2 separate regions of the Homo sapiens genome follow, and region 2 is linked to region 1. A link means that fine-mapping ties the variant in region 1 to the expression of a gene that starts in the linked region. Tissue or cell type: blood mononuclear cells. Region 1 holds a variant in brackets; the other region holds the start of a gene. All regions are shown on one strand. Distances are from middle to middle.

Evidence for each region. PIP is the estimated chance that this variant, and not a neighbour inherited with it, causes the effect.
Region 2: it holds the start of CPNE2, and the variant in region 1 is fine-mapped to the expression of CPNE2 in blood mononuclear cells (TOPMed, PIP 0.99). The same link has a PIP of 0.9 or more in whole blood.

The regions. Positions count from the first base shown.
Region 1 is chr16:57,122,579-57,125,078 of GRCh38, reverse strand. It overlaps CPNE2 (copine 2), which reads right to left. Exons shown (of 16, transcript NM_152727.6): 10 at 1,606-1,665. Among named protein-coding and RNA genes, the nearest start is that of CPNE2, 31 kb to the right of the region's middle. The variant GA/A (reference allele first, on the strand shown) is at 1,161.
Region 2 is chr16:57,091,443-57,093,942 of GRCh38, reverse strand. It overlaps CPNE2 (copine 2), which reads right to left and starts at 1,360. Exons shown (of 16, transcript NM_152727.6): 1 at 1,153-1,360. RefSeq lists silencers at 869-1,278, 1,339-1,388, 1,499-1,748, 1,769-1,838.

The DNA.
Region 1 (2,500 bases):
TACATGGGAACTCAGTTGCTGTGGGGTAGGAGAGAAGGGGCCACCCATCCAAATCCTCACATGGCTAGAGGGTCACTCCCCCAGGTCAGGGGCAGCATGTCTTAGTCCTTGAGGGACCGCTGCAGGGACACAGCCTAGAGCCCGGCACAAAGGAGGCAGTCAGTGTGAGTTCGCTGAATGAACAAACTCGTGCAGGAGGAACAGGAGGGCCTGGCCTCTGTGCAGGGGAGGGGGCAGTGGTGGGCAGCAGGGTCAGAAGTCAGCAAGGCCAATCCTCTGACTCCATGGCATCCTGTGATGCCCTCCATTTCCCATTAGGATCTAGGGGTGGTGATGGGGAACGGTGAGACAACATGGGGAGGTGGGCAGAGCGTGGCACCCCAGCAGCTTCCTCCCTTCTGGGCCTGAGGCTCCCTTGGGGTGAGGAAGCAAAGCCAGGATGAGTGGCACAGAGTCTGTGGGGCAAAGACTCCAGGCCACAGGCAAGGTGGCAGTTCATTCTTCCAACGAGAAATGATGGAGCACCTGCTATGTGCCAGTTACTGTGTGATATGCTGGGGTTGGAGTGGAAGCAAAATAAACAAAGTGCCCACACTTAAAAGCACTCACATTCCAGTGGGTGCGACGATCAGGGAGAAGCGACAAATGCATATGAATCTCGGGGCGGCAAGTGCCCAGAAAATAGGAAAATAGTGAGGGCCAGGCCCAGTGACTCATGCCTGTAATCCTAGCACTTTGAGAGGCCAAGGTGGGCAGATCGCTTGAGCCCAGGAGTTTGAGACCAGCCTGGGCAACATAGCAAAACCCCATCTCTACAGAAAATGCAAAAATTAGCTGGGCATGATGGCATGCACCTGTAATCCCAGCTACTCAGGAAGCTGAGGTGGGAGGATCAACTGAGAGCTGAAGGTGGAGGCTGCAGTGATCTGAGATCGTGCCACTGCACTCTAGACCACGTGACAGAATGAGACGCTGTCTCAAAAAAAAAAAAGAAAAGAAAAGAAAAGAAAAGAAAGAAAATAGGAAGATATGACAGAGGAGCAGCAAGGCATTGAGGGAGGGAGGGCTCCCTGGAAGGTGACCTCCGTTACCTCCTCAGGCCTGAAAAATGGCAGGTAGGCAGCCATGCAAAGGTTCTGGGGAAGTGTTTCAGGCAGAGG[GA/A]ACAACAAATGCAGAAGGAACAGCAAATGCAAAGTTCTAACATGAAGCAAAGCTTGGCATGTTGGGCAAACAGAGGAAGAGTGTGGTTAGAGCCCAGTGAGCAAGGAGGAAGGAGGCTGCAGATGAAGGAGGCAGGGATCGCTGAAGGCCTTGTGGCCAGTGAGGAGGAATTTGTTTTCCTCCACCCGCAGAAGGAGTGTAGCCACCAGACTGAAAGCTGTGCAGCTGTGCTCTGACCTGTAGTTAAGCCCCAACTCAGGCACACCCAGCAGGACCAGACAGCCCACTTATGCCCTCCTCACTAGGCCGCACACACTCTTTGCCCCAGGGAAGTCCTTCCTGAAGTCTACCCTAAGTCCCTCTGGCTGCACTAGTGGCCCAAGTCTTCAGGGAGGACCCTCACTGGGATGGGGGTGCAGAGGGAGCCAGCGGGGAGAGCCTTACGGTGAACATGAGCTGGCAGCCTCCCAGGATGTAGTCAAGGAAGGAGTAGTCTCGGTTTATCTGGAAGAAAGCGGATGAGTCAGTGGGTCCCCTTGACTTGGTCACACTCCCCATGGGGGAGTTGTTGCTCTATGTCCTGCAACCTCAGTAGGGACAAGGAGGTCAAAAAAAGCTGATGGGCCTGATCTAATTACAACAAAACCCAAATCTCTCTATAACAAAGCCTTCAGTGCAATGGTTCCTAATGGGTGGGGGACTCACAGAGACCCCCACACCCCACAGATACACAGACACATGCTGGTTCCAGGCAGGGTGCCAGGGCCCAGTGTCAGTTACCTGACACAGAGTGTCTCAATTTGTCACTGTTAGGTACTTACCTTCTCCTGGCCCTTATTAATCTACCTTTTTAACAAAGAGAAAGAGCAGGCCTCCAGCTCAAGGCCTTCCTCTAGAAGTTGTTTTGATGGTCTTTGTCTCTTTTTGGCAAAGAAGGCAGATCTTTTAATTTTGGTAGAGTTCTAATAATCTCTTTCTAAATAAATGTATTTAAGTTAAAAAAAAAAAAAAAGAGAAAAGAAACAGGCCAGGTATAGTGGCTCATTCCTGTAATCCTAGCAGTTTGGGAGGCCAAGGCAGGCAAATCACTTGAGGTCAGGAGTTCAAGACCAGCCTGGTCGACATAATGAAACCCCATCTCTACTAAAAACACAAAAATTAGCCAGGCGTAGTGGCATGCACCTGTAATCCCAGCTATTTGGGAGGCTGAGGCAGGAGAATCCCTTGAACCTGGAAGGCGGAGGTTGCAGTGAGCTGAGATCACGCCACTGCACTCCAGCCTGGGCAACACAGTGAGACTCTGTCTCAAAAACAAAAACAAAAAACAATAATACAGGGA
Region 2 (2,500 bases), 31 kb after region 1:
TCATAGGTGGGGTTCAGACCCAGGTCTCCCAGGCCTCCCCATCAGGGCAGGCTGCAGCTGCCAGGGATTACAATCTGCGCACACCGCCTGTTTCCTGAAAACCATGGGCTCCCTGCAGTCCGTGAAGCTGTGGATGCCCAAGGGGCAGAAAAAGCCCCCCAACCTTTGATGACAGCACACACCTCTAAGGGAGCAAAAAACTAAGGCAGACAAAAAAAAGGGCGTTTTGTCTGGAAGATCATTCTTCCAGACCCCTTGTCCCTTCCCCCAGTACATATGGGGCAGGGGATTCAGATGCAAGATGAACACCCTATTAGCTACCAGAGCCAGCAGCATCTGTGACCTTGGGCAAATCACAGCCCCCTTTGAAGCAGCCCCTTCCCCATAGGAGAGCTTCTTGAACTCGGGGGGACGTGGAGCGAGGCTGGGGGATGGGGTGGGAAGAGCAGGGAAGAGGGTGTAAGACCCCTCTATTTTCAGAGGAGCATCGCTGTGAGAAACGGGGAATAAGAGAGGGCCTTGTTCGCCCGCTCTCTCCATGCCCACCCCCACACCCCCTTTAAACACACAGGTGCCAGACAGCTTTTTCGCAAAAACTAGTTTGCAAACACACTCCGACTTCTGGGAAGCTGCCCAGCTCCACTCCCCCTCTGCGCTCCCAGTACCGGGGCTGGGAGCCGGCCCTCCGGCAGTTGCCTGGGGCAGGGGGTGGGTGTTGAGGGGTGGGAGGAGGGCAGAGGGGAGCGGAGAGGAGCCAGCGCCCGCCGAGAGCCAGGGCGACCTCACGCCTTCAGCAGCTGCGGCAGCGGCGGGTCTCCACCTCCCGTACGCCCTCCAAGCCCCTCGGGGCGGGTGGAAGGGTCCCCAAAGCAGCTGGGCTCGGACCCCCGAGGGCGCCCCCCTCCCCAGGGACCCCGCCCGCCCTTCCCCGCAGTCCGGGAGCCGGCGGGGCGCCCCCGCGTGGCCGGGTCGGAGCTGAGTCACCGAAGCGCCGGAGTCCGGGTTCGCGCTGGCGGCGGGGGCTAGAGCGCCGCAGCCCCCCGAGGCGGAACCCGGGTTCCTTCGGACCCGCAGCTGGATCAAAGAGCCCAGCCCCAAGGCCGAAGTTGGGCACTCACGCCAAGCTGCCCCGCCTGCCCGGGCCCCACTCACCGCAGGTCCCGCGGGCGCCACCGCCCTCACCGCACGGCTGCCGCTGCCCGCGCTCCGAGCCGCCCGGGCATCCCCGGGAGCTGCTCCTGCTCGGCCGGGCCCGCGGGCGCGGGACAGGCTCAGGGCGCTGCCCGCGCGGCCACGGCCCGCTCGCGTGCGCTCCCAGCCGCTCGGGGTCCGGTCCTCCTCCCGGGCCGGGCGGGCGGGCGGCGGCGGCGGCGGCGGCTCGGGCTCCTCCCTCCGGCCGAGGAGGGGAGTGGGGAGGGAAGTGGGAGGCGAGGCGGGAGCTTCCTGGAGGGGCGCGCGCTCTCCCACGGGAGGAGCGGGGGCGCTGTCCCGCCCGCAGTCCGCCGCTCCCAGCCCGCGCCCGGCGCGCCGCGGCACTCGGGGCGCCTGGCACCGAGGGGGCCCGAACGTTCGGGCCGAACGCGAGGGTCCGAAGGTTCCAGGCTGGGACTCAGGTGGCTGAGGATCGGAACAACGCGGCTTCGCGCCCTCCCCAGGCCTGCTTTGCCCGAGCCTCTGGCACCTCCGAGTTCCGAGCGCCGTGCGCTCAGGGCCACCGACGCGGGAACAGAGGGGTGGCCTCAGCCCGGGCCTGCGGGGCCCCAGGGCCGCTTGGACCCCCAGCGCCGATGGGAGCGGCGCTGCGCCCTCGGGGCAACACCCAAGGCTGGGTTCTGGGTTGTATTGGGCAGGATTAGGGCCGCAGTGTTTTCTTCCCTTTTTTTTTTCAATAGCAAAAGAGCTCGGCATTTTCTTGCCGCCAGAGATTGGAAATATGACATATTTCTCTGACACAGACGATAAGATAAAGACGGATCCGAACTGGGCCTGGGTCTACTCATCCGTGCGGAAAATTAGGCGAGTCTTTAAGGCCTTGGAGCCCAGGCCTCCTTTTCCCTAGAAGAGGCACCAATTCTTAGGACACTTGTCTGTCGCTGGGCGCTCAAGCCTTTGGCCACTCCGCGGTATTTAGGTGCTCTCTGGGCAAGTTCACCACCGGGCATCAGAAGGCTGAGCCTCACGTAACCAGATTCTGGGGGGCGGGGCTTTCCCGGGGATCTCAAGGCCATGTCCACAGCCCTTGGCCCTGGGGCTCAAGGACTGGGCAGCTGAGGGTTAATGCCGAGTGCTTCCATTGTGGCTTTTCGATTCCAGGCAGGTGAGGGTTAATGTGGGAGCCTCGCGCGCTGCAGCCTGTGAGCCTCCCTCCACGTCTGAGTCACTGGCACTTTGCAGCCTTACAGGGGCCGAGACTAAACAGCCCCCGGGGCTCTGAGCTTTGTTCTCTGCCTGCCTGTCACCCATCCATCTTTCCTTTCTCCAAGCTCTCTTCACCTTTCTT